Homo sapiens: one gene and its partners. The protein of the gene in region 4 interacts with the protein of the main gene of each other region in a pairwise test. Each region holds a gene or a part of one and is shown on either strand. Other genes may lie near its edges.

Region 1 (4,621 bases), on a different chromosome or scaffold from region 4:
AACACAGGGCTTGGTAAATCCAGGAGTGAATACTACTGAGGCATCTGCCAGGGCATAGGAAACAGTAACAAGAGGACGGCTCAGCTAGTGGCTCAGACTATCTTGCCCCACACTCTCCAATATTGAGTAGGGAGTAAGCCTTGAGCCCAGGAGGTTGAGGATTCAGTGAATTATGATCGTGCCACTGCACTCCAGACTGGTGACAGAGTAAGAGTCTGTCACACATGCTTACACACACAAATTAAATTGTGTGAGCAGTTGTCACACAGGGAGATCTGGATGCACTCACTGTGGACCCAGGTCTCAGCGAGCAGGAGGGTGTTCTGTATTGTGGGAACATGAGGGACACGCATGGGACCGGGCATTTGTGCCTAGCTTTGAAGGGTGGCTGGCCCTTTGCCCAGGGCGAAGAGGCCAGCAGAATGCACTAACAGTGGGGAACCACCAGGAACTTTCACTTGAACCTGCTCTGCTGAGCCCCCTGTGCCATCCGTGGACCTGGGCGAGGGAGGCTGCTGAACTGGGAGCTCAGGGCCCATCTCTCTGAGGAGCTTTCTAAATCAGCAAGTGTGTCACAGGTTGAGATTTTAGGAACGGGGTCCTCCATGTTGTCCTCGATTTTAATAAGTAGACTCTTTTGGCCAATCTGCATTGGGCAGAGCAGGAACAAGACATAATTTTTTAATATATATTTTTAAAGCTGTTTAATTTTGGTAAAAACATAGAAGATAAAATTTACCATCTTGACCAGTTGTTTAGTGCACAATATGTTGTTTTAAACCTCTGGAACCCTGCCTGCTGCTCCTGTAATAAAACCTAGCCCGGGCCAGGCGCGGTGGCTAACGCCTGTAATCCCAGCACTTTGGGAGGCCGAGACGGGTGGATCACCTAAGGTCATGAGTTTGAGACCAGCCTGGCCAACAAGATGAAACCCCATCTCTACCAAAAATACAAACAATTCGCCGGGCGTGGTGGAGGGCGTCTGTAATCCCAGCTACTCCGGAAGCTGAGGCCAGAGAATCCCTTGAACCCGGGAAGCGGCGATTGCGGTGAGCCGAGATCACGCCACTGCACTCCAGCCTGGGCAACAAGAGCGAAACTCCGTCTCTAAATAAATAAATAAATAAATAAATAAATAATAAAACCTAGCCCGGACTGTAATCACGTCCACTGGGAACTGGCGCAGTAGTGGAGGGGACGCGATCAGGCCCGTGGCTGCGCCCAGAGCATGATAAGCCAGGGACCTCGCGGCGCAGGCGGAGGGAGGGAGAGCGTCGCGGACCCAGGCGGGGACAGGGAGACGCCGCCGCCGCTGAATATTCCTCTGCAAGTTTCTTCACCTTCAATAAAAAAATGTTGTGATGATTAAATGAGTCTGTCGTGGAAGGAACCGTGTCTTGGCAGGAGCCGGGCGGACACCCAGACACCAACCCGAAGGGGGTTGGGACAAAGGGGAGGGACGCCCGGGAAGGGGAGGGACACCGTCAGGGCAGCCAATCATATTTCTAGCCGCGTGACGCTATGACCCGCTTGACGCTATGACAGCGGGAAACGGGGGGCGCGCCCGTACATAGGGAGGCTTTAAAACCTTGAGGTGATTCATCTTCCAGGCTCTCCTTCCATCAAGTCTCTCATCCCTAGCGCTCTGGGTCCTTAATGGCAGCAGCCGCCGCTACCAAGATCCTTCTGTGCCTCCCGCTTCTGCTCCTGCTGTCCGGCTGGTCCCGGGCTGGGCGAGCCGGTGAGTTCGTGGATGGAGCCTAAGCCGGGCGGGGACCAAGCCTGGAGGGCTGTGAACTGCCGCGGGTTTCAGAGGAGGGGAGGCTTCTAGAAGGACGGGGGAGATCTCCCCTAACTGCGCCCCCGTTCAGTTCCGGTCGGCGGCTCCTTCCTGCTGGGTGCAGTCCCCGAGGCTGCTTCTTGCCCGGGAAGAGGCGAAAAGGAGCGGGGTGGAAAGGAGGCTGGCAGGAGGGTGGAGGGGCCGGAGGGCTGCAGAGAGCGAGGTGGGGCGGGGATCCCTGGTGCAGCCTGGCAGTCCCACCCGCCCTCGGGAAGGAAAAACCAGAGCCCCCGGAACCGGAGCTGGGGACAGGACAGGGGTGAAGCGGGATTCCACAGGGACGCGATCACAGACACCCCCACCAGCCACAGGCCTGCTCTGCTCTCACCCGCTCTCCACCACACAAACCCTCCAGCGCCCCCAGGGCTGCGTGCCCTTGAATTTTTCCCTGCACTTTCCTGTAGACACTCACCTGCACCCAGGGGCTCAGCAGACAACCGCCACCCCTCCCCTCACCATCCACTGCCACCACCCAGGTCACGTCCTCTTACTGCCCACCTCAGCCCAGCTGGTCACCCCAGAGGTCTCCCCATCCATGAAGGGGACCTCACCACCTCCTACACCACGTCGCACCTTCTGCCTCTTGCCTGAGGACACACCCCAGCAAACACACCCCAAGCTCCCCTCAGAACCTGTGCAGGGGGGATGGGAAGCACCATTTCCTCCAGGATGACCCTGGGAACTCTGGTGAGTAGAGGCACCCACTTCTGCCCTTGGGGCCCAGACCGCCTGTTCTTCCTACGGGGGTGTCAGCGTCATAGAGAATAGTCACTGTGTAGACAGGGGTCAGCAAACTCTTTCTAGAAAGGGAGGAAGGATGCCCTGTGATCTTTGCAGGCCGTGGGTTCTCCGTCTCAGTGTCCAGTCCTGTCCCTTTGTAGAGCAACAGCAGGCAATGGCAACCTTCAAATAGGGGGGACCAGATTTGGACCCTGTCCTAGGTTGCTGATCCCAGATCAGGGGATTACAATGTCCCAGTGAATAGTGCCCCATCCCCTATGGTGTCATCTCCAAGTGATGTCTCTGATGTCAGTTGGAGAGTAGAAGGTGGTCCTACCTTGTCTGTGGCTTCTGGGTGGTGTGGATGTGATGGGAGTGGGGGTCCCATAGTTGGGGGCTTATTCTCCCCTCCTTTGTGCTGAGTGGCATCCACGGGGACCATCAGGTACCCTCCCTGAAGCCTCAGGTGTGAGCTGAGGGTGAGGGGGTGCAGCCACGTGGTGTCCTGGGGATCGGGTCCAACTGCTTGTGCAGCTTCTTGGTTCCCGGTGGCCCTGCTCCTGCCCATCCCAGAAGAACCACCTGCGTCTTCTCACTGCTGGGCCTAACTTCCTAATGACCTAGAGGGTGAGGAGCCCACCAGTAATGGGCAGCTCTGAGGCCTTCAGCAATAGGCATCCCTAAGCTTCATTCCATTCTGGTGCCTTGTCATGGGCCTTCTTTATATGCATGGCAAAAGGCCCCATCTCTGCCAAGGTGCAGTACTCTACAGGAGCCACTGCTTAATGTTGCGATTTCCTTGCTGTGAGTGGCATTGCCTTGTCTCTGAATATTCACATGGAATCTCTGTTGTGATTCTCCAATTAGACATTGTGACCACATGTACCTCTAGGGTCTTAGGGGGTCTTGGGTCATTGGGCACTTAAGGTAGGTCCAGCCTCGCTCATCATGCATGGATTGTCTATGGCTGCTTTTGAACTTCAACAGCAGAGTTGAGTAGTTACAATGGAGAATATATTCCCTGCACACCTTTACATGTTTACAAAATTGCCCTTCACAGCAAACTCTACTGGCCATAAATATCTTTGGAGAAGGCCACAAGGACTCACTGTCCTGGCTGCAGGGTTAAAGGGTCCTTCCTCACTAGAAACTGGTGTCTTCTTCTAGTCATGGGTTCAGGGTCTGAGAAGTGGCTTCATTCTGCAAATTAGGCAAAGCAGCCTCGTTCTTGATGGACTGGCTACTTTCAGCCTCCTGATTTGGTTTATCTCTGTTTCTTGTAATTATTTAAATCCAGCAGTATCTGGGGTGGGTTTGCATCTCTTTTGGACCTTGGACCCCTTTGTTCTATGAGCCATGGGCATAACTTTGTATAACTGAGGTCCCCAGCTGGCATTGTGACTTCTCTAATCATTTCCATCATTGCACCCTCCTTGCTCCTGACAGTTGACAGCCTCCACCTGGAATTTGGAATTTCAGAATTGTTCATCCCATTACTCTGGGAGCAGATTTCAGGAACAGCATCTCCTACCCCCAACCCTGGCCTTCAGCAATAGGCATCCCTAAGCTTCATTCCATTCTGGTGCCTTCTCATGGGGCCTTCTTTATATGCTGGGTAAACAGGAGTCCTCCAGGTTTCCCATAAGCACAGTGGATGGACATTGTTCTGGATTTTCACACTTAGACCCCTCTGGCATGGGCACTTCTCTGAGCCTGTGATCTCTCCCTCCACTACCTGCCTTAGACTTTCAGATTTTCCATTTCTTGCTGTGTGGACCATCTCTTTGTCCAAGGTTTCAGGAAGGCCTCCTCATAGCAGATGCATGCCATCACCAGGGGCTTTGCCAACATGTTAAATCCTGTGGCCATGATAATTAACTCTTCTTTATCCAACGGGGTTCCATCCTCACTCTGTTCAACCAGCACCAGCATCCACAGGGGTGGACCCACACCCTCTCCCACCTCCCGCAGTCCACGTGGGCTACTGCTGAAGATCCTCTGCCATCCAGGCCCTTCCTCCTCTCTTGCTAGAGAGGCCTGGCACCTTTCTAGCAAGGTCAC
Region 2 (4,004 bases), on a different chromosome or scaffold from region 4:
TGGACCTTTCAGATTATCTATGGACCACAGGTAAGAAATGACTCATCTTGAAGAACTAAAGTTTGTACTCAGTGCTGCAATGTCTGTGAGATGATACATTCCTTCTACTATGTTTGATTTTTAAAAAGCAGTTTATTTTATCCTTGAAAAAAGATTACACTAATTTTCTTAATCTGATAAATGCCCTGAGGTGTGAGATCTGTTTCCTAATTAAAAGTACTTTACAGCAAATCTAGAGCAAGACTGAGGGGAACGAAAGTTACCAGTTTTGAAGGCCATAGTGAAAATGTCCCATCTCAACAATAAAAATTGGATTTAATTAAAACAGAACTAAATTCTGATTATATCTGTCTGCAACATGATTAATAATACTGTTAACTTATGGGTGCTTTTGATTTAAAAAGAGGCCCACATAGAACCTGTGGACAATGAGGAAAACAGCCCATGTGAATGAGTGGGTGAAGTGGATCACATTAGGGCTTTCAGGAAACAAGGTACCTTTTTGCTATTATGTGTAGAAACTAAGGCAATGTGTCATTGGAACAGCTAAGCCTGCTGGTTGAATTAGAGGCAGATTATTTCTCAAGGGACCTGTTTGTTGTTGTTGTTGTTGTTGTTTTAACACACACACACACACAACTAAATAGATACAGGATAACATTTTGTTTAAGCATTTTCCTGGTGAACATTAAAAAGGCATTTCCTAATGCCTATGAAGAAGTGGGAAGATGGGGAAGGAAACATTTTTTTCATTGCAATTTAAAATGATGCAAATTATTGAGTTGGATGCTATATATAGTAAGGCATACTTAAGGAGGGTAAGAGGCAAATAAGTTTTATATTTGCCTTTCTAGAAGAGGCATATTGAATGCATAAAAAAAACAAAGTGTGTATAGTGGTAGATGATGGGGCAGTTGAAAAAGATTAAGTGGAAGATGAGTTTACCTACAGTTTTAAGCTCAGAAGAGCAACTGTGGATTCTGGTGGTGATTCTGGCTAGCTGGTTGACTACCTGTTCTTGCCAGGGACACCACTGACCTGTTCTTTAGTTTGTTTACCTCAGAAAAGAGTCAGCTATTCCAACAAGATAGTGTGGAAGTCAATAAGACAATTTTTAAAAACTTTACAAGCACTTCCACAGTCTCAGATAATGTGTAAGGCATATATTTGAAAGAAATATTAACTTTGACATAACAGAGATGAGCTTTGTCTTAGACAATTAAAAATGCAGTGTAGGGTATCAGATATATGGAGGAACTACCTATTTCTCAAATAATCAGGTCAAAACTTTAACTGTTTTATCTATTTTAGAGCCTTTATATCCAGAATTTTCTATAATCAATATCAGACATTTACACTCATCTGTACTTATCTGGCTCACTTTACTTTTCAAGATTATAAAATATGAAATGTCAAAATATTACCTTCATCATAAATGATGCTCACATATAATTTTTGAAGTATTCGTTCTTGTATTCTCAAGATGATGAAATAAACCATTATTTAAACTACTGATCATTTCCTACATTTTTTCCAAACAAAAACTAGAATATGGATTAGTCTATTTCACACCTCCACTTAAAGAAAAAAATGTCCATTTTTATATTCCTTTTAATGTCATAAATGTGTTACTATTATGCTACTTTCTCTGTCATTTTACTGAGTACAGAGAAAAAGCAAACTTCTAAAAAAAGAAAAGAAACAATTATTTCCTGATTTAAGGATTCCACCGTTGTTATTAGTAGAAGGCTATGGTAAGGTACCAACATCTGCTTAAAGTTATACAGAAAAGAAGCTGAGTCCAGAAGTGAGATCAGAGTTATTACAATAGACAGAACAGAATTTGGGGTGTAGGCCACAGTACATCTTCTTATTTTCTTATTCAGGGAGAAATTCCATATGGCTGCTTTTCTGTGGGTGCCATGAAGATGGGAGTTGATAAGGCTGGGATGCTCCTGGCACCCTAAGACTCTTCTTCACCAAGGCTCAATGAGTAGAGGTTTTCGTCTCAGTAACTGCTGCTTTGTCTCAATCATAATTTTCTCTTATTTGCATCAAACTATCCTAAAGCAGGATGTGGGCATTTGTATTTTTCCTGGCTTCCTCATTCTATTGCTTTTCAAATACAGCTATTTCAATGTTCCTAGAGTGAAAATCCCAAACCAGCTTCTGTGAGTCAGGGCCTTTGTGTGAATTGTGATCCACTGTATGTGTGAGAAATAATGCATTGAAATGTTTTAAAAAAATCAAAAGCTATGAAGCTCATAAATTGACCATGAGTCTGAGTTTTTCTGTCATCTGCTTTTTTATGTTCCTTATAGGTACCCTGTGTGATCACGCCACCCTGGTCATGGGAAATACTTGCATATGAGAATGGGCAACTGAGAGGATCTATTTTATAATCCCACAACACAACGAGAGTAGCTTTGTATGTGGGTCCTAATTTGTCCCAAGGACAATAGCCATTATTTTGGTTGTCCATGTGTAACTAAGATTTTTTTTTTAAAGTTTTCCTCCATCAGTTGGGAGTTTTTCAAAAGTGTGTGTGTGTGTGTGTGTGTGTGTGTGTGTGTCAGAGAGAGACAGAGGGAGAGGGAGAGAGTGCAACGGAGAAAAAAGAGAGGTTTGTGAAATCTTAGACCTAAATGAAAATAGCTATTTCTACAACAGACTGGCTTTTCTCCTCAACAACTTTTCTCAGGGTCAATATTTCCTTCAGCTTTTGGTGTTCTTTTTGTAAGAGGAGGTATGGGGTGCTGGAGCAAAGGCCTACAGCAGAGACAGCAGTTAAATCACACTGAGCTAGGTTTGCATATGTTTTCTATGTATTTTATCCTGTGTGCATGATCTATCTGCAAATAAATCCATCTCTATTTTATTCATAGTTCTAATGGCAAGTCTGTGTCATGGTCTGAACCAGGTGGAGGACAGGTGCCCAAGGGACAGCATATGTGGCACCGCCTCTCTGTGCACGTGAAGACCAATGAGACGGCCTGCAACCAAACAGCCGTCATCAAGCCCCTCACTAAAAGTTACCAAGGCTCTGGCAAGAGCCTGACCTTTTCAGATACCAGCACCAAGACCCTTTACAACGTAGAGGAGGAGGAGGATGCCCAGCCGATTCGCTTTAGCCCGCCTGGTAGCCCTTCCATGGTGGTGCACAGGCGCGTGCCAAGCGCGGCGACCACTCCGCCTCTGCCGTCCCACCTGACCGCAGAGGAGACCCCCCTCTTCCTGGCCGAACCAGCCCTCCCCAAGGGCTTGCCCCCTCCTCTCCAGCAGCAGCAGCAACCCCCTCCACAGCAGAAATCGCTGATGGACCAGCTCCAGGGAGTGGTCAGCAACTTCAGTACCGCGATCCCGGATTTTCACGCGGTGCTGGCAGGCCCCGGTGGTCCCGGGAACGGGCTGCGGTCCCTGTACCCGCCCCCGCCACCTCCGCAGCACCTGCAGATGCTGCCGCTGCAGCTGAGCACCTTTGGGGAGGAGCTGGTCTCCCCGCCCGCGGACGACGACGACGACAGCGAGAGGTTTAAGCTCCTCCAGGAGTACGTGTATGAGCACGAGCGGGAAGGGAACACGGAAGAAGACGAACTGGAAGAGGAGGAGGAGGACCTGCAGGCGGCCAGCAAACTGACCCCGGATGATTCGCCTGCGCTGACGCCTCCGTCGCCTTTCCGCGACTCGGTGGCCTCGGGCAGCTCGGTGCCCAGCTCCCCCGTGTCCGAGTCGGTGCTCTGCACCCCTCCCAACGTATCCTACGCCTCTGTCATTCTGCGGGACTACAAGCAAAGCTCTTCCACCCTGTAAGGGGGAAGGGTCCACATAGAAAAGCAAGACAAGCCAGAGATCTCCCACACCTCCAGAGATGTGCAAACAGCTGGGAGGAAAAGCCTGGGAGTGGGGGGCCTCGTCGGGAGGACAGGAGACCGCTGCTGCTGCTGCCGCTACTGCTGCTGCTGCCTTAAGTAGGAAGAGAGGGAAGGACACCAAGCAAAAAATGT
Region 3 (4,004 bases), on a different chromosome or scaffold from region 4:
TTTCCAAAGTTAGATTTACTTTGCTTGATATCCCCATTTTTTTTAAAGTCCACATCCATGAGGGTCATATTTATAAAACTCTTGATGAAAGAAAAATTTCCCGTATGTGAAGTCTCATTAAAATGGTATAGTAATATGTCAGAGTTGTTCATTTCCAGCTGCAGTCTTGACTGATGAGTATTCTCATGAAAATTCTTTCAAAAGTTCATAATTTGGCCATGAAATCAACTGTCTTCAAACTAAAGCTTAAAATACACTGTCTGAAGCTGAAAAAATGCTTTCATTCTCTATGAAACTGAAGGAACGTTTCATCCTTTCTAAAGTACTCAGGCAAGAACACAGTTTATCCGTAGGTACTATTTTTTCATATTCACTTAAGACAGGGACAGCCCTTGTGGTATCCCTAGACTAGTGCCTCACTATGGTGGGAGATGGAGAAAAAATCAGAACAGCTTGTGGGGTCCTCCCCCTCCCTCCGTACCAAACAAAACCAGGTGGTAGGTTTAGGGATGTCACTGAATAATCCTCTCAACCTTTTTGTATGTTTGACATTTTTCATAAGCAAATGTTGAGGGGGGAATGGAAAAAGAAAGAAAAACCAGGACTCCTGATCTGGCTAGGGACACGGCCACTTAGTATTTCTTTGCTCAGGTATAAACAGACATCGACATAGAAATGTCCAGTCTCGACTGCCCTGGTTGATTTTACTATTTGAATGTTTGTGGCACCCACAGATGCTTAACACCCCAAGTGTCTCTAGGAGCGTGGCTCTGCTGTGAGTCAGTGTCCGTGTGGTGGAGGGCCAGTGGGGTGGGGAGGTGCAGCTGCCCTAGGGTTTGGACTTCACGTGGAGACTTTGCCCTGCTATATCCTACCCAGTCCCTAGGTCCAGTCTTCTCATTGTGTAGCTATGTTTATTTATTTATTTAAATTTTTTTTCTTTTTGAGGTGGAGACTTGCTCTGTTGCCTAGGCTGGAGTGCAGTGGAATGACCTCGGCTCACAGCAGCCCCCGCCTCCCAGGTTCAAGCGATTTCCAGCTAATTTTTGCATTTTTAGTAGAGACAGGGTTTTGCCATGTTGGCCAGGCTGGTCTTGAACTCCTGACCTCAAGTGATCTTCCTGCCTTCCTGCCTCCAGCTCCCAAAGTGCTAGGATTACAGGCATGAGCCACTGCACCCAGCCGTGTAGCTATGTTTAAAAAGGGAGCCATTGTTCAAACACGAGTTTGCTAAATAGGAGTAGTTAGGAGACTTTTTTCCCCATTTTTAAAAATTGAGGAAAAATATACATATTTATCCTTTTAACCATTCTTAAGTATACAGTTCAGTTAAGTGGCATTAAATGCACCATTACTGCAAACATCACCACTGTCTATACATAAGACTTTTTCATCATCCCAAACAAAAACTGTACCCCTTAAGTAAAAATTCCCTGTTCCCCTTTCTTCTGGTAATCTCTCTTCTTTCTGTCTCTATGAATTTGCCTGCTGGAGGTAACTCACATAACTGGAATCATACAATATTTCCTTTTTGTGTTTGGCTTATTTCACTTAGCATAATGTTCTTGAGGTACATCTTTATTGTTGCATATGACAGGATTTCCTTCCTTTTTATAGCTGAATAATATGCCATAGTTCTGCGACTTTTGTTCTGTGTGAACCTCCCTTGGGCCCGTTTCATTTAGACCTGCATGTTAAACTTCAGAGAAGGTGCTGCTGTTGACTGAGGCTTCGTTCTCCTTTATCACCTTAGACCTTTGGGGTGGCACTGGCAGGCTTTGTCCTCAGTGTGGAACTGAGGACGCAGATTCGGTGCTGAGTGACTACCTGTGTCTTTCAACAGATGTTGCGTGGGCCTGTGTGCACATGCCTGGGAGTAGATGGGGGTAAACCAAACAGGATGCTCCTGCCCTCGTGGTGCTATCAGATTCTTCAAGAGGAAGCACACCAGCCAGTGGTGGTGCTGTGGGAAGGGCTGGGAGTGAACATGTATGGTCCCTTAGATTGGGGAGGTCAGGAAGGTCCTTCTGTGGGAGGGGTTCTGGGCTGAGGTTTTAGGAGTAGGAGTGAGCCAGGCAGGTGGGGTTGAGTTGGGCTTTTTTTTTTTTTTTTTTTTTTTGAGACAGAGTCTCACTCTGTTGCCAAGCTGGAGTGCAGTGGCATGTTCTCGGCTCACTGCATCCTCCGCCTCCCGGGTTCAAGCGATTCTCCTGCCTCAGCCTCCCTAGTAGCTGGGACTATAGGTGCGTGCCACCACACCCAGCTAATTTTTGTATATTTGGTGGACACAGGGTTTCACCGTGTTGGCCAGGATGGTCTCGATCTCCTGACCTCGTGATCTGCCTGCCTCAGCCTCCCAAAGTGCTGGGATTACAGGCGTGAGCCACCGTGCCCGGCCCAGCGTTCGGTTTTTCTAGCTGAGAGAAAGGTTTTGCAGGTTGGGGAGGACAGGAAGCATCGGTGCCTTTGACATACACAGGATCACAGAGTCAACCCAGACCTGCTGTTTGAGCCGCAGTCAGCATCTTGAGGCTCAGATGCTGCTCAGAACTGACCAACCTGGCACCTGGCTGCAGGCACGTTTCAGAGAGGAAAGACTTAAGCTTTTCTTCTCTGTGTTTTTCTGTCTTTACAGTTAAAAGAAAGCTACTTTAACTTTCTAAGCATCATTCTCAAACACTGATTTAAAGAGGAGTCACTCGGCTGGGCATGGTAGCCCGCGCCTGTTATCCCAGCTCTTTGGGAGGCTGAGGCAGGTGGATCACTTGAGATCAGGAGTTCGAGACCAGCCTAGGCAACAGGGTGAAACCCCCATCTCTGCTAAAAATACAAAAATTAACCGAGTGTGGTGGTGCACGCCTGTAATCTCAGTTACTCGGGTGGCTGAGGCACGAGAATCACTTGAATCTACAAGGTGGAGGTTGCAGTGAGCTGAGATTGAGCCACTGCACTCCAGTCTAGGTGACAGAGTGAGACTCTCCCAAATAAATAAATAAAAAATAAAGAGGAGTCACTTGGAGCAAGCAACCTGTTTCTGTGTTCAGTTTGGTAATTTTTCCGTGGTCTTATCTCCTGGCCTCATTAAACCTTTTTTGCCTAACTTATTATAAATCTTTAATTAGTAATGGTGATAATTGATCAGTATATCATGCATTACAGATTGAGCCTGCTGTCACACACAGCACCACTGTGATCCTCAAGGCAAGCCTGTCAGGTAGACAGTAGCGGGTGTTAGACCCTTGGTACCGTGCAGGAGCTTGAAACTCAGCAAGGTTAAGTGACAGGCTCAGACCACACGCTCAGTGCCAGAGCTGGGGAAGGACCCAGGCCTCCCACCTCCAGCCACTTTAGCACTGCACACCCAGTTTTCAGTGAGCTTCCCCTCCCTGTGCTTTTTAAACAGGGTCTTGCTCTGACTCCCAGGCTGGAGTGCAGTAGTGTGACCTTGACTCACTGCAGCCTCTACTTCCTGGGTTTAAGTGATTCTCCCACCTCAGCCTCCGGAGTAGCTGGGACCATAGGTGTGCCTCCACACCTGGTTAATTATTTAATTACTTTTAGAAATGCCGTCTGCCTCTGTTGCCCAGGTTGGTCTCCAGCTCCTGGGCTCAAGCAGTCCTCCCACCTTGGCCTCCCAAAGTGCCAGGATTACATGTGTGAGCCACTGGACCCAGCCTGCCCTGTGCTTTTTCACCTTTGGTCACTGCCTTCCTCCTCCACCACTGACACTGCTCTCCTGGTGGGCCGCATTGCCCAGACAGGTGAGGTTTCCTGGCTCAGAGAATGGCACCACCACTGGCCCCATTTTTCAAACCAGAAACTTGGGCTCATCTTTCATATCAGTCCTTTCCAGTGAACATTACTTACTCCTATGGGTTCTACCTCTTAGTGCTGTTGAGTGCACCCACTTTTCTCTATCCTGTAACTGCTCTCTATTTCAGATCCCCATAATTCTTTGGGCAAACTTTCATTGTGACACATACCCTATAGTGTATTTAAATAAT
Region 4 (4,004 bases):
ATTTGTTATAACTGCTGAACCTCCATTGACACATCCATATCATCCAGAGTCCATAGTTTATCTTAGAGTTCACTCCTAGGAGCGAGCTTTTTAAAAGTCGGTTTTCTTCCCCTTTTGCTGTAGAAAGGCAAAGGCATCACAATGCTGGAAGAAATCAAAGTCCCATCCATCAAATTGGTGTACACTTTGACGGTCCCCGAGGCCACGGTGAAAGACAGTGGAGATTACGAATGTGCTGCCCGCCAGGCTACCAGGGAGGTCAAAGAAATGAAGAAAGTCACTATTTCTGTCCATGGTACATTCCGCTTTCTAAAATGTCAGTTGTCCATGCTGCTCGGGATCCATATGTGGTAATCATTATTTAATGGAAACTCTTCCCTGTACAGAGAAAGGTTTCATTGAAATCAAACCCACCTTCAGCCAGTTGGAAGCTGTCAACCTGCATGAAGTCAAACATTTTGTTGTAGAGGTGCGGGCCTACCCACCTCCCAGGATATCCTGGCTGAAAAACAATCTGACTCTGATTGAAAATCTCACTGAGATCACCACTGATGTGGAAAAGATTCAGGAAATAAGGTAAAGAAACTCTCTGCCCAAGTATGCCTTTTTTTAGTGTGCATCAGAGGCGGACTGAGGTTTGTGTGTGTCTTACAACCCAGACCCAAAGTCAGTCTAGAAAATGTAACAATCTGAGTTAAGAGATGCTTGAAATCACATCCCTTTAATGATAACATTGCAAAGTGGTATTAGTATGCTGGTAAGTATTTAATGAGAAGATGAGAAGAAAGAACTAAAAGCTCTGGCCCCTGGGGAAAGACAGGTCACTGGATTCAGCTAGGGTGGAAGAAAGGAAGTAAAATTGGACTCACCAGGATTGAATAGATTGAATATATTCCCTGATGTTCATCATCCATATCGCAAGTAGACAGATATGGTGATTACACCCATGAGGCAGTTATCACATCACCTTACGTGAAAGTTAACGTCATAGGCTTAATCTGGAACCCATTTGCCCTAATTGAGGACTCCACAGGAAAGAAGAGTAGAGCCTGGCTAATCAGGAGAGAGATGTGCAGTGAGTTGCTTGGATCCCTACCTTTTAATCAGAATGGTAGATTGCTCTCATCTCTTAATTGGTGGTGGAGTTTTGAATGAGTCACCCCTCAGCCACAGTTTCCTCATCTACAATGTAGGATAAACAATACCTTATGTCCTTCAAGGCAAGGAATTGGATCAGATGATATCATGAGGCCTCTTAAGGTTTTAAGCTGTGATTAGAACCCAAGAGTCAGAAGATACATCTCACAGCACCCAGCTAACCAGCCCTATACTTTTGTCAGAAATCATCTCAGAAAGACAAAGTCAGTCCTGTATTTCAAGCCTTCAGGAGGAAGAACAGAGCCTTTCTCATCAGTTCCATTCACCTCAGGATTTGCTTTCTTCTTTGTGAACTAAATTCCACGTGTAATTGAGAAGCAATGTCTGAGAAAATGGAATTTTACAGCCTCTATAGAATAGTAAAGGAAAAATGAAGTGGGATACTGAATCTGGAAGGCTTTCTGTTGACACAAAATGAAGGTGTACAACAAGGAGGGCAGCTTTCCACGAGGAACTTCCATGAGGCTGTGCAGCCAGAGAGGAATAGGGTAACAACCCTGGTACAGCTAACACCTCCAACACGTGTGTGAGCACTGTCTGCAAGCCATAATCCATAGCAGTGGCAGGACAGGCTCGCCAACTGAGTGGTTCTGGAAAGCTGCCTTTTCCTTTTAGTGATTCAAGGATGCTTCAACGTGGATTTTTTAGTTCCTGTTATGAGCCAGTGAATACAAAGATGAACATGGTAGATGGGGGATCTGGCTTCCTGGAGCTTAAAACTCCAGGATGGGGGATCTGGCTTTCCTGGAGCAAGAAAACCAGTGGTTTTCTTGGCCGAAGAAGTGAAGAGAACAAACAGCAGAGGATAATTTGGTAATCAGCATCCTAGTGTGCCCCAGGGTACTCTCTTAAGGAAATCCAGTCCTGGAGCACACCCAGTATGGTCCAGCCTGCTGTCTTCGTAGGTCTGAGTGCCCCAGTATTTGCAAAGTGTTTTGGAGCCTATGAAATGCTTTCACACATACAATCTCCTTTAATTAACTCTCACAATGACTCTGTGCTATGTGTACAATTATCACGTTTTACACACAAGGAAACTGAGGCATGGAGCATTGTAATAATACCCGAGATCTTCTCACTCCATGACCAATGCTTTTCTTCTCCATTCCAGTTGCTTTTTCAACTGTGATGATTTATAAAGGACAATCAAATGGGCACATACTATATTTATGCACATACATACACACACACACACACACACACACACACACAACCAGATGTCATTTATAATCCATGTAAAATATTTTTGGGGAAGTTTCTCTTTAATAAAGTTTGAAGAGACATATATTTTTTTTTTTTGAAGAGGCATATTTTTTCTAACTTTTTTTTTTTTTTTTGAGATGGAGTCTTGCTCTGTCACCCAGGCTGGAGTGCAGCGGTACGATCACGGCTCACTGCAACCTCCGCCTCCTGGGTTCAAGCGATTCTTCAGCTTCAGCCTCCTGAGTAGCTGGGATTACAGGCATGTGCCACCATGCCTGGCTAATTTTTTTTTTTTTGTATTTTTAGTAGAGATGGGGGTTTCACCATGTTTGTGAGGCTGGTCTCGAACTCCTGACCTCAAGTGATTCACCTACCTTGGCCTCCCAAAGTGCTGGGATTACAGGTGTGAGTCATCACACCCAGCCTATAACTTTTTTTTAATAGGTGATAGAATCCCGTGCTTGAAAAATAATCAAACAAAAAGAGAATGCATTGTAAGAAGCCTCACTGTACTCCTGTCCCCAGCTGCCCAGTTCTCCCCTCCTCCCCACAGGGAAACATCTTCATTAGTTTCATTAGGTTCTTATGAAACCTTCCAGAGTTTCTTTAAGCAAAATACAAGCAAGTAGGACTGTCATATCCTGCAGACCGCTACATACAAATACATAGAAAGTGTCCTCATTCTATCCTCCAGTGATATTCCATTTTTTGGCTGAACCACCTAAATGATGGATATTTAGGGGAAGCAAGTATTTTTTAAAAAAGGTAAAAATCAAAGGTTTTTATTTTTTATTTTTTTAAAGAAAAGTTGGTAGGCTGTGTTTATTCATTCAGAAGTCAGGCCGTGGCTGAACTGATAGCTCTTGGAGATGGCCATTGCTCATCTCTGAATGTCTGGTTTTCTCTTGTAAGAATTGTGTGTATGATCCAGACCTTCAGTGTGTGCACTATATATTGAGAATTCCAGAAGAGATGATATGGACAAGAAAAAAAGATGACTTTACTTTTTACAGTAAAAATAAAACTTAAATTGAAGAGTACAATTGTTTAAACAATTGGAACTTACTTAGCTACTGCTTGTTGAAACAAAATCCTTTTTTTAAAAGGTATCGAAGCAAATTAAAGCTGATCCGTGCTAAGGAAGAAGACAGTGGCCATTATACTATTGTAGCTCAAAATGAAGATGCTGTGAAGAGCTATACTTTTGAACTGTTAACTCAAGGTATGTAAAGGGAGTATAAAGATAATGCTAGCTCTGTAGATGAGTGTCTTCCAAGGAAAGCCTGGCACTTTTCTCCCCGGTCATGGAAGAAAAGCAGCACTTAGGGGAGAAGCAGTGTCTGCATATGTCACATATCGGGAATACCTCTGCTGGACTCATGAATTCAGGTATTTCTGGGAGGTTCTGGGTTACTCTAGAGTAGGCGAGGAATCCCTAGGCTCCACCAGCTAGCTTTATTTTTGTAGAGATGGAGTCTTGCCATGTTGCTCAGGCTGGTCTCCTGGGTTCAAGCTATCTTCCCACCTTGGCCTCTCAAAGTACTGGGATTACAGGTGTGAGCCACTGCACCTGGCCTCCACCAGCTTACTTAGCACCTGCTTCTCAATCTGAGAAGAGAGAAGCAGATGACCTTAGATTGTTC
Region 5 (4,004 bases), on a different chromosome or scaffold from region 4:
GTGCGCATCAGGGGCAAGTGAGTCAGGTGGCCAGGTGCCATTGCCCTGCGGGTGGCTGGGCGGGCTGGCAGGGCTTCTGCTCACCTCTCTCCTGCCCCTTCCCCACTGCCCTTCTGCCCGGGGCCACCAGAGTCTCCTTTTCTGGCCCCCGCCCCCTCCGGCTCCTGGGCTGCAGGCTCCCGAGGCCCCGGAAACATGGCTCGGCTTGCGGCAGCCGGAGCGGAGCAGGTGCCACACGAGGCCTGGAAATGGCAAGCGGGGTGTGGAGTTGCTCCTGCGTGGAGGACGAGGGGCGGGGGGTGTGTCTGGGTCAGGTGTGCGCCGAGCGTTTGAGCCTGCAGCTTGTCAGCTCCAAGTTACTACTGACGCTGGACACCCGGCTCTCACACGCTTGTATCTCTCTCTCCCGATACAAAAGGATTTTATCCGATTCTCATTCCTGTCCCTGTCGTGTGACCCCCGCGAGGGCGCGGGCTCTTCTCTCTGTGACTAGATTTCCCATCTGGAAAGTGCGGGGTTGACCGTGTAGTTTGCTCCTCTCGGGGGGCCTGTGGTGGCCATGGGGCAGGCGGCCTGGGAGAGCTGCCGTCACACAGCCACTGGGTGAGCCACACTCACGGTGGTAGAGCCACAGTGCCTGGTGCCACATCACGTCCTCTGGATTTTAAGTAAAACCACACACCTCCCGGCAGGCATCTGCCTGCGACCCTGTGTGTGCCTGGGGAGAGTGGTAGCACGGAGGAAATTCGTGCACACTCAAGGTCATCAGCAAGGTCATCCGCAGTCAGGTGGAACGTGGAGGCCTCTCTCTGGGATCGTCTCCAGCGGATAAAGGACTGTGCACAGCTTCGGAAGCTTTTATTTAAAAATATAACTATTAATTATTGCATTATAAGTAATCACTAATGGTATCAGCAATTATAATATTTATTAAAGTATAATTAGAAATATTAAGTAGTACACACGTTCTGGAAAAACACAAATTGCACATGGCAGCAGAGTGAATTTTGGCCGAGGGACACGTGTGCACATGTGTGTAAGCGGCCCCCAGGCCCACAGAATTCGCTGACAAAGTCACCTCCCCAGAGAAGCCACCACGGGCCTCCTTCGTGGTCGTGAATTTTATTAAGATGGATCAAGTCACGTACCGTCCACGTGTGGCAGGGCTTTGGGGAATGTGAGGTGATGACTGCGTCCTCATGCCCTGACAGACAGGAGGTGACTGTGTCTGTCCTGTCCCTAGGACACGGACAGGCCCGAAGCTCTAGTCCCCATCGTGGTCCAGTTTGGCCTCTGAATAAAAACGTCTTCAAAACCTGTTGCCCCAAAAACTAAGAACAGAGAGAGTTTCCCATCCCATGTGCTCACAGGGGCGTATCTGCTTGCGTTGACTCGCTGGGCTGGCCGGACTCCTAGAGTTGGTGCGTGTGCTTCTGTGCAAAAAGTGCAGTCCTCTTGCCCATCACTGTGATATCTGCACCAGCAAGGAAAGCCTCTTTTCTTTTCTTTCTTTTTTTTTTTTTGAGACGGAACGTCACTGTTGTCTGCCTGGGCTTGAGTGCAGTGGCGCGATCTCAACTCACTGCAACCTCCGCCTCCCGGGTTCCAGCATTTCTCCTGCCTCAGCCTCCCGAGCAGCTGAGATTACAGGCACCCACCCCCTGCGCCTGGCTAATTTTTGTATTTTTAGTAGAGAGGGGTTTTTGCCATGTTGGCCAGGCTGGTCTCGAACTCCTGACCTCAGGTGATCCACCCACCTCGGCCTCCCAAAGTGCTGGGATTACAGGTGTGAGCCATCACGCCCAGCCGGAAAGCCTCTTTTTAAGGTGACCACCTATAGCGCTTCCCGAAAATAACAGGTCTTGTTTTTGCAGTAGGCTGCAAGCGTCTCTTAGCAACAGGAGTGGCGTCCTGTGGGCTCTGGGGATGGCTGAGGGTCGCGTGGCAGCCATGCCTTCTGTGTGCACCTTTAGGTTCCACGGGGCTATTCTGCTCTCACTGTTTGTCTGAAAACGCACCCTTGGCATCCTTGTTTGGAGAGTTTCTGCTTCTCGTTGGTCATGCTGAAACTAGGGGCAAGGTTGTATCCGTTGGCGCGCAGCGGCTACATGTAGGGTCATGAGTCTTTCACCGTGGACAAATTCCTTGAAAAAAAAAAAAGGAGTCCGGTTAAGCATTCATTCCGGGTCAAGTGTCTGGTTCTGTGAATAAACTCTAAGATTTAAGAAACCTTAATGAAAGAAAACCTTGATGATTCAGAGCAAGGATGTGGTCACACCTGTGGCTGGATCTGTTTCAGCCGCCCCAGTGCATGGTGAGAGTGGGGAGCAGGGATTGTTTGTTCAGAGGTCTCATCTGGTATGTTTCTGAGGTGTTTGCCGGCTGAATGGTAGACGTGTCGTTTGTGTGTATGAGGTTCTGTGTCTGTGTGTGGCTCGGTTTGAGTGTACGCATGTCCAGCACATGCCCTGCCCGTCTCTCACCTGTGTCTTCCCGCCCCAGGTCCTACGTCCAGTGCCAGGGGATCCCGCAGGGCTCCATCCTCTCCACGCTGCTCTGCAGCCTGTGCTACGGCGACATGGAGAACAAGCTGTTTGCGGGGATTCGGCGGGACGGGTGAGGCCTCCTCTTCCCCAGGGGGGCTTGGGTGGGGGTTGATTTGCTTTTGATGCATTCAGTGTTAATATTCCTGGTGCTCTGGAGACCATGACTGCTCTGTCTTGAGGAACCAGACAAGGTTGCAGCCCCTTCTTGGTATGAAGCCGCACGGGAGGGGTTGCACAGCCTGAGGACTGCGGGCTCCACGCAGGCTCTGTCCAGCGGCCATGTCCAGAGGCCTCAGGGCTCAGCAGGCGGGAGGGCCGCTGCCCTGCATGATGAGCATGTGAATTCAACACCGAGGAAGCACACCAGCTTCTGTCACGTCACCCAGGTTCCGTTAGGGTCCTTGGGGAGATGGGGCTGGTGCAGCCTGAGGCCCCACATCTCCCAGCAGGCCCTCGACAGGTGGCCTGGACTGGGCGCCTCTTCAGCCCATTGCCCATCCCACTTGCATGGGGTCTACACCCAAGGACGCACACACCTAAATATCGTGCCAACCTAATGTGGTTCAACTCAGCTGGCTTTTATTGACAGCAGTTACTTTTTTTTTTTTAATACTTTAAGTTCTAGGGTACATGTGCACGACGTGCAGGTTAGTTACATATGTATACATGTGCCATGTTGGTGTGCTGCACCCATTAACTCATCATTTACATTAGGTATATCTCCTAATGCTATCCCTCCCCACTCCCCCCATCCCATGACAGGCCCTGGTGTGTGATGTTCCCCACCCTGTGTCCAAGTGTTCTCATTGTTCAGTTCCCACCTGTGAGTGAGAACATGTGGTGTTTGGTTTTCTTTCCTTGCAATAGTTTGCTCAGAGTGATGGTTTCCAGCTTCGTCCATGTCCCTACAAAGGACATGAACTCATCCTTTTTTATGACTGCATAGTATTCCGTGGTGTATATGTGCCACATTTTCTTAATCCAGTCTATCATCGATGGACATTTGGGTTGGTTGCAAGTCTTTGCTACTGTGAATAGTGCCGCAATAAACATACGTGTGCATGTGTCTTTATAGCAGCATGATTTATAATCCTTTGGGTATATACCCAGTAATGGGATGGCTGGGTCAAATGGTATTTCTAGTTCTAGATCCTTGAGGAATCACCACACTGTCTTCCACAATGGTTGAACTAGTTTACACTCCCACCAACAGTGTAAAAGTGTTCTGGTGCTGGAGAGGATGTGGACAGCAGTTATTTTTTTATGAAAATAGTATCACTGAACAAGCAGACAGTTAGTGAAGGATGCGTCAGGAAGCCTGCAGGCCACACAGCCATTTCTCTCGAAGACTCCGGGTTTTTCCTGTGCATCTTTTGAAACTCTAGCTCCAATTATAGCATGTACAGTGGATCAAGGTTCTTCTTCATTAAGGTTCAAGTTCTAGATTGAAATAAGTTT
Region 6 (4,004 bases), on a different chromosome or scaffold from region 4:
ACCCTAATGGTATGGGTGAGAACCCTGAGACTTTTGAGAGTTTAAGTTGCCCCTGCTCGTGTTGACAGATATTAGGGTGGGTATAGTTGCAGCCATCACGCTAGTGACGGTCCTGGAGTGCAGCAAGTCTTCCAAAGCGTACTCTTTCTCGTTTTAGCATTGCTCTAGTGAGCTTACTGTGTGTAGACATGGAAGGGGCACGTGGGGGCAGGAGACACAGCATACAGGGAACCGTGGGTCACCCTTCAACTTACAGCAAAAACAATCAGGTTAAATCTACAAAAACCAGCCCCTCTCCTATTTCCCCTTCCTCCTGTACACACTCTATTACAAACACACTTTCTACAGCAGCTCTTTTAATGGTCAGCCCATTGCCCCAGCATCAAGTTAGCAGCATTGTTAGACACCGTGGATCCCTGAGCCAAGCACAGCCCTCCCCTCCCATCATGAACGCAGAGCAAACCTGGCCATCTGCCTGTCTCCTTGGCTTTTTCTCCATTGCCCTCTCACCATCTCCACCTCTTGAGGGACGTATATAATGGTGCTGCGCCCACGCCTGCTGTCCACCCGCCCCTCCTACGCCTTCTCTGTCGCCATGAACAGTGTGACAAAGCCAGCCTCCCTGCCTCTTGCTCTGCTGTAGGTCTCTTCCACATGGGTCACAGGAGAGTGTTTCTCTGCCCAATAACCTCGTTAGCTCCCCCCTGTGACATTCATAACACAAGCGGGGCAGCCGGCCCATGGCCCTGGGCCCACAAAGGCCCGGGTGGGAGCATCTGCCAGGGAAGAGGCAGGCAAGTATCCCCGGCCCTCCCTTCCCTCTGCCATAGGCCTCAGACCGGGAAGCACACCTCACACATGCCCATCTCTGCTGTCCCACTGCTAGCAAAACCAACTCTTATTATTGGCATACGAATGAACTTCTGGAAGCCAGCAGGCATAGGGGGAACAGGTGCACCGGTTGCACAGGGAGACTCTACCTCCCTTTTTGTTTTACTAAGAAGATTTTCAGGGGAGTCCTCTTGGGGACACTGTCCAATCCCACAGAATTGGGGAGCACTATGTGCATGAACTTGACTGCCTCTCAGCAGCTCAGAGTGGCACCAAAGGAGCAGTGTGTTCCCACAGCCAGAGGAGAGACGCCGCTGGAGACGAGGACGGCGGCCGTGCTGCCCTCTGTTGCCCGCTACACAGAAGACGAGCATCTTCCTCGGGATCCCTGAGCATGCCCCACCTCTCCTCCAGGTTAGTCAAATACTGAGGCAACATCAGCCCTCCAGCTAGGTCCAGACGTGGGACTGTGGGCAAGTCACTTCCTCTTTCCAAGGGCTTGGTTTCCCATTTGTCTAATAACGGGTTGGGTGAGATAAGTGTTTTTCTAACTTCTAGCTGCAACTCATTAATGGGTCATGAAATGCATTTGTGGGTCGTGACCAGCACTTTCTGTTGTTGTTCTCCTTTAACCAAATAGAGTAGGATAGAAAGTATCAGGCTCACCGTATGTCGTTAAGAGTAAATATTGTTCGGAGAAACTTTTGTATCAGTTTGATATACTTGTACAAGTATCCTGAGTTGTGTTATAAAATGTGTTTCTTCCTACATGGCTTAGGTCAAGAGTTTAAAGATAGTAAGCAGGATAACCTCCCAGGTGCCTTACAGGTCTACTTTGCTCTTACTTGAGGATCTGGAATGGGAATGACTCCCAAGGAGAAGAACAATGAGGAGACAATAGAATGGATCACGGTGTCTACCAGCCGGCAAATTCACAAAGCAGCCCTCTCCACAGAGCGGCGCTACTTCCCCGTGGCACCAGGGCTGCCCCAGGACCACTCTCAAGGACATCCCCCTCTCTACTGGTAGGGGATACTGAACAGAGAGAAAAACAAAAAAATCAAACATCATTTCATCTGTGCACTAGCTTCCTAGCTGTAATTAGCCAACCCCCACCCTCAACTGTGGAAAGCTCCACCTACCCAATGCAGCCATTCCTGGAAACCATCAGCTTTGTCGCTATGACAGGATGGAGAAATGGTCACAATATCCACTCAGAAGAAGGAAGCGGAAAACCAAATTGCATGCATGCATGCGACGATGAAGATTACAACCATGGGTAAATACATACATATATGCCTATGGATGAACTGGAAGGATGCACGGAAAATAAAAGCTGTTCTGTTAGGTGGGAGAAACACAGATGAGTTTGTAAAATTTGTACGTAATATTATTTTAACAAATAAAAACCAGGTACAAATTTCTCAGCAGTCTGTTAAGTCTCTTGATCAAAAATGCCAACAAGCAATATGCTGGTGCAGAAGGCACGCTCAGGGGTGAGGGTGTGCCCTCGCCATCGTTAATTGCCCACCTGGAGAGGTGAGATGCTGGTGACTTCCTGAGATCCTTCCTCCTGCAGCAGAGAGAGAGGCAATGAACCGATCAGCGATCCATTCTGATCGACTCATGACAATGTGCTCCTCCCTGTTCCAGGCAGCATGGAGGACTCCCCCCAAAACGTACAATATTCAGACTTCTTAAGGCTGGGCATCAATGCATTAGATAGTAGAGGATGGTGTGCTATAATGGCTAGGTCTGTACTACTATATGGATAACTTCTGAAGAAACTTCTCAAAGAAAGGGGGCTCTTGAAGGCTGGGCGCAGTGGCTCACAGTGTAATCCTAGCACTTTGGGAGGCCGAGGTGGGCAGATGACCTGAGGTCCGAAGTTCGAGACCAGTCTGGCCAACACGGTGAAACCCTGTCTGTACTAAAAATACAAAAATTAGCCAGGCATGGTGGCACGCGCCTGTAATCCCAGCTATTCTGGAGGCTTGGGCAAGAGAATCACTTGAACCCGGGAGTTGGAGGTTGCAGTGAGCAGAGATTGTGCCATGCACTCCAGCCTGGGTGACAGAGCAAGACTGTCTCAAAAAAAAAAAAGAAAAAGAAAAGAAAAAAAAAAAGAAAGGAGGCTCTTGAGTGAAGAGGAGCATTTGAGACACTTCTCAGAAGACTCTTCAGGGAGATGGGAAGGATTTGGAGAGTAGACTCAAAAAGCTCCAAGCTGGAACGTGGAGTGCACGGAGCTTGGGCAGCCTCCACTCCTGCCCCAGTCCCCACCAGACCCAGGAGGGCCTTTCTCCAGGTTGCTGCATCTGGAGATCTGAAGAGAGCAGGAGCAGCCACACGCCTTGCCATGGGCAACAGAGGCCGTCCCAGGGCCTAGGGCTCCAGCTCCCCTCCAACCAAAGCAGACCTCTGGAGAACACAGCTCACTGGTTCAGAGTATTAGCTCTGGAATCAGAAGGAGGTGGAATCTCCATCCCACCACCTACCAAGTGTGTGAAGATGAGCAAGTTACCTGACCTCTCTGAGTTTTCATTTTCTGATCTGCAAATAATGACAACAGCAATACCCACGTTGTAGTGCTGTTCTGAGGATTCACTTAAAATAATCCTTGTAAAAGCACAGTGCCTGGTTCAAGGTAAGCAATGAATGTCAGCCAGCATCCTCCCCAACCTGCCCCTCCTCTGCTCTCACTCCTAGTACTTCCTGCAGGACTGTGGTGGGGAGTTCCGACTGGAGATGCTCTCCAGCGTCTGGAGGGATGAGGAGAAAGGCGCCCAGCATCCCTGGATTGCAGGCAGATGCAGGGAGCAGGCCAAGCAGGCCAGGAAGAATGAGGGCTCTGTGCTTCCTGGAGAATCTGTCACTATCCAGTTGTGTATGTGTCCCAGAAATGACATCATCGAGTCCCCAAAGCCTCCTGCTGCTTTGCAGAACTGGGAGAAAGTGCAGCCCCACAGGGGAATGAAAAGAACCCCATGAACACTCAGCGAATGGAAGAGAGAAGTTGGCAACTCTAACCCAGCACATTCCACAATTCATTGAGATGCAGTTCACCCGAGCCAAGGAACGATGCCCAGATAACCAGGAACACCCGACATTCCCGCCTCCCTCCTGGCAAAATGGTGGAGGCAAAGGACACACCTTAGGGGAATCCCAGCTGG
Region 7 (4,004 bases), on a different chromosome or scaffold from region 4:
AATTACACATCATGACTAAGTGGAATAATTCCAACACTGCAAGACTGGTTCATTTTGCAAAAATCAATTAATATAGTATACCATATATTAATAGAATAAAGGACCAAATATGCACGATTATTTCAATAGATATAAAACAGGCATTTGACAAAATTTAATACCCTTTCATAATTAAAAAAAAAAAAAACTCAACAAACTAGAAATAGAAAGGAATTTCCTCAACCTGACAAAGGACAACTATTCCAAACCCATGGCTAACATCATATTTAATGGTGAAAGACTGAAAGCTCTCCCTCTAAGGTCAGGAACAAGAGAAGGATGTCTGCTCTCATCAGTCTATTCAACATTGTACTGAAGGTTCTAGCCAGGGTAATTAAGCAAGAAAAGGAAATAAAAGACATTCAGAATTGAAAAGAAAGCACTAAAACTACCTCTATTTGCAGATGGCATTATCTTGTATATAGAGAACCCTAAGGAATCCACAAAAAGCTATTAACATTAGTAAACAAGTTCAGCAAGGTTGCAGAATACAAGATCAATATACAAAAATCAATTACAGTTCTATACACTGGCAATGAACAATCCAAAAATGAAATTAAGAAAAACAGCATTAAAAAAACTTAGAAGCAAATTTAACAAATAGTTACCACTTATACCCTAAAAATTATTTTTAAATCATTGAAAAACAATTAAAGAAGACCTAAGTAAGTTGAAAGACATCTGTGTTCACGGAGTGGAAGATTAAATAATGTTAAGACAGCAATATTCCCCAAGTTGATCTAAAAATTCAATTCAATTCTTATCAAAATCCCAGCTGGATTTTTTTGGAGAAATTGCCAAGCTGATTCTAAAATTCAAATGAAAATGCTAGGTATTCAAAATGGCCAAAACAATCTTGAAAAGAACAAAGTTGGAGCACTTACACTTCTCGATTTGAAACTTAAAAACTATAATAATCCAGAGTTTTCAAGTACAAGTAATCAAATATGGTGTGGTACTGGTACAAAGATAGACAACTAGATCAATGCGAGATGTATACGCATTGATCTGAAAGTACAGAAATATATGTTATGGTCAATTTTCAACAAGTATAACAAGAAAATTCAATGGGAAAAACAGTCTTTAACAAACGGTACTGGAACAAATGTATATCTACATGCAAACGAATAAATTTGGACCCCTATCTCATACCATATATAAAAATTAACTCAAAAATAAATCAAAGGCTTAAATATAAAAGCTAAAACAATAAAACTTGAGGCTGAGGTGGGAGGATCACTTGAGCCCAGGAGTTCAAAACTAGCCTGGGCAACATAATGAGACCGCAGCTCAAAAAAAGGAAAAGAAAAGAAAAAAGAAAGTGAAAAGATAAACAATAAGTGAAAATATTTGGAAATCCCATATCTGATAAGAGCCAAGTATTAGAATACATAAAGAATTCTCACAACTCAACAATAAAAGCCCAATAACTCATTTAAAAAATAGACAAAGGATTTGAAAACATATTTCTCAAAAGAAGGTATACAAATGGCCAATAAGCACATGAAAAGATGCTCAACATCATTAGTCATTAGAGAAACCTAAATCAAAACCAAAATGGGATACCATGTCACACTACAAGCCCACAATTTTAAAAAGACACAAAATGACAAGTATTGGCAAAAATATGAAGAAAATGGAACCTTATACAGTGCTGGTATGAATGCAAAGTGGTGTAAAACAGATTGGAAAAGTTTGGTAGTTTATTAAAAAGTTAAACATAAAGCTACCATATGACCTAGCAACTTTACTCCTAGGTATATACCCAAAAGAACTGAAAACACTGACCGGGTGCAGTGGCTCACACCTGTAATCCCAGCACCTCGGGAGGCCAAGGCGGGGAGATCACGAGGTCAGGAGATCGAGACCATCCTAACACAGTGAAACTCTGTCTCTACTGAAAATACAAAACTTAGCTGGGCATGGTGGCACGCGCCTGTAGTCCCAGCTACTCGGGAGGCTGAGGCAGGAGAATCGCTTGAACCCAGGAGGTGGAGGTTGCAGTGGAGGTTGCAGTGAGCCGAGATCACCCCACTGCACTCCAGCCTAGGCGACAGAGCGAGACTCTGTTTCAAAAAAAAAAAAAGAACTGAAAACGTATGTCCACACAAAAACTTGTACACAAATATATAGAGTAGCATTATTCATAATTATGCATAAAGTAGAACTATCCCAAATGTCCATCAACTAATGAAAGAATAAACAAAATGTAGTATAGCCATACAACGAAATGTTATTCAGCAATAAAAAGGAATGAAGTTCTCATATATGCAATAGTATGGATGAACACTGAAAACATTATACTAAGTAAAGGAAGCCAGACACAAAGGCCATATATTATCAGATTCCATTTATATGGAATGTCCAGAATAGGTAAATCCATAGAGACAGAAGATAAATCAGTGGTTGCCAAGGACTTGAGGAAAGAGAAAGTAGAGAGTGAGTACTAATAGGTAGGAAGTCTCTTTCTGGGGGTGGTAAAAAGTGTTTTGGAATTATACAGTGGTGATGACTACACAACCTTGTGAGTATATCAAAAACCATGGAATTGTACACTTTTAAAGGGTGAATTTTATGGTATCTGAGTTATATTTCAATAAAAAATTTTAATTTATTTGTTTTTTGATACAGGGTCTCACTCTGTTGCCTAGACTGGAGTGCAGTGGCACGATCACAGCTCACTACAGGCTTAATCTCCTGGGCTCAAGCAATCCTCCCACCTCAGCCCCCAGAGTAACTGAGACTACAGGCCCGTACCACCATGCTTAGCTAATTTTCCTTTTTTTATTTTTTTTAAGACAGAGTCTCACTTTGTCACCCAGGGTGGAGTGCAGTGGCGCGATCTTGGTTCACTGCAACCTCCACCTCCCAGGTTCAAGCAATTCTCAGTCTCAGCCTCCCAAGTAGCTGAGACTACAGGTATGCGCTACCACACCTGGCTAATTTTTGTATTTTCTATAGAGACGGGTTTTCGCCATGTTGGTTAGGCTGGTCTCAAACTCCGCTTGCCTCGGCCTCCCAAAGTGCTAGGATTACAGGAGTAAGCCACCGTGCCCGGCCATATTTTTAAAAATTTTTTTGTAAAGATGAGATCTCACTATATTGCTTATGCTGGTCTCAAACTCCTGGGCTCAAGCAATCTTCCCACCTTAGTCTCCCAAAGTGCTGGGATTACATGCGTGAACCACCGTGCCCTGTTTCAACAAAAATGTTTGAGTAGAACTGAAAAATTGAAGACTTCAAAGAAAGAATGATAAAAGTTACAACACAGTAACATGTACTGGCTCAATGAATCCACTTTTTCTGGTCAGTCTCCACAGTTACCATACTTACCTATATGGCTGTAAGATTTTTAATTTTTGACATTCTACTATAACTAATTTAGAGCATGTTGTACACCTTATGACAGTATCAAGGTACCAATGTTGGCTCATTAAAGTTTTGCAGGGCACAAACTAATTGCTTTAGTAATGTACTGAGAATCTCCACAAGGAACTAACAATATTTTCTTAAGTTGTGTTTTAATGGACTAGACTATGGAAAACTGAATATGTAAAATTTAAAGACTGCTTAGATTTAAAATTGGTAAATAATAATAATGATGACATCATTTCACTGATATGTCCCTAGAAATCTGTATTTTGCCGTAATATTCAGGTCAAGAAAGAACTACCAAAATAGAAATGAATAAAAAAATAGAGAGGGAAGGAAAGGGCTAAAGTCCAAAGAAAATTAAACACATCTTGGCTAAACAGCTGTGTTGAAAAACAATTTCTTATCTTGCAATTAAGAACCGATTTCTTTCTGAAAGACACAGGACATTGGGTTAATAGATTTCTTTAAAAGAAAATCTGTTTTGGCTATTGAAACATTAAAAGAACAGAACATCTGTTTTGCAAGTAAAGACAGATTGTGCAAAAGAATCAAATATCAAACCACCAATTAGACTAGCATTTAATCTGTTC

The links.
Region 1: the proteins of PDGFRA (region 4) and ULBP2 interact in a two-hybrid assay, tested with the Homo sapiens proteins (one large-scale study listed by BioGRID and IntAct).
Region 2: the proteins of PDGFRA (region 4) and GRM1 come close enough for resonance energy transfer, tested with the Homo sapiens proteins (one large-scale study listed by BioGRID).
Region 3: the proteins of PDGFRA (region 4) and LATS2 come close enough for resonance energy transfer, tested with the Homo sapiens proteins (one large-scale study listed by BioGRID).
Region 5: the proteins of PDGFRA (region 4) and TERT come close enough for resonance energy transfer, tested with the Homo sapiens proteins (one large-scale study listed by BioGRID).
Region 6: the proteins of PDGFRA (region 4) and CCND2 come close enough for resonance energy transfer, tested with the Homo sapiens proteins (one large-scale study listed by BioGRID).
Region 7: the proteins of PDGFRA (region 4) and MAP2K5 come close enough for resonance energy transfer, tested with the Homo sapiens proteins (one large-scale study listed by BioGRID).

The regions. Positions count from the first base shown.
Region 1 is NC_000006.12:149,940,417-149,945,037, forward strand, and holds the start of ULBP2 (UL16-binding protein 2 preproprotein), read left to right. Parts: upstream 1-1,597; 5' UTR 1,598-1,656; coding exon 1,657-1,741; intron 1,742-4,621. UniProt on the Homo sapiens protein: Binds and activates the KLRK1/NKG2D receptor, mediating natural killer cell cytotoxicity.
Region 2 is NC_000006.12:146,430,987-146,434,990, forward strand, and holds part of GRM1 (metabotropic glutamate receptor 1 isoform alpha precursor), read left to right. Parts: intron 1-2,885; coding exon 2,886-3,810; 3' UTR 3,811-4,004. UniProt on the Homo sapiens protein: G-protein coupled receptor for glutamate. Ligand binding causes a conformation change that triggers signaling via guanine nucleotide-binding proteins (G proteins) and modulates the activity of down-stream effectors.
Region 3 is NC_000013.11:21,051,349-21,055,352, reverse strand, and holds part of LATS2 (serine/threonine-protein kinase LATS2), read left to right. Parts: intron 1-4,004. UniProt on the Homo sapiens protein: Negative regulator of YAP1 in the Hippo signaling pathway that plays a pivotal role in organ size control and tumor suppression by restricting proliferation and promoting apoptosis.
Region 4 is NC_000004.12:54,267,166-54,271,169, forward strand, and holds part of PDGFRA (platelet-derived growth factor receptor alpha isoform 1 precursor), read left to right. Parts: intron 1-123; coding exon 124-295; intron 296-386; coding exon 387-576; intron 577-3,467; coding exon 3,468-3,583; intron 3,584-4,004. UniProt on the Homo sapiens protein: Tyrosine-protein kinase that acts as a cell-surface receptor for PDGFA, PDGFB and PDGFC and plays an essential role in the regulation of embryonic development, cell proliferation, survival and chemotaxis.
Region 5 is NC_000005.10:1,267,132-1,271,135, reverse strand, and holds part of TERT (telomerase reverse transcriptase), read left to right. Parts: coding exon 1-17; intron 18-2,502; coding exon 2,503-2,616; intron 2,617-4,004. UniProt on the Homo sapiens protein: Telomerase is a ribonucleoprotein enzyme essential for the replication of chromosome termini in most eukaryotes. Active in progenitor and cancer cells. Inactive, or very low activity, in normal somatic cells.
Region 6 is NC_000012.12:4,283,675-4,287,678, reverse strand, and holds part of CCND2 (G1/S-specific cyclin-D2), read right to left. Parts: intron 1-4,004. UniProt on the Homo sapiens protein: Regulatory component of the cyclin D2-CDK4 (DC) complex that phosphorylates and inhibits members of the retinoblastoma (RB) protein family including RB1 and regulates the cell-cycle during G(1)/S transition.
Region 7 is NC_000015.10:67,646,699-67,650,702, reverse strand, and holds part of MAP2K5 (dual specificity mitogen-activated protein kinase kinase 5), read right to left. Parts: intron 1-4,004. UniProt on the Homo sapiens protein: Acts as a scaffold for the formation of a ternary MAP3K2/MAP3K3-MAP3K5-MAPK7 signaling complex.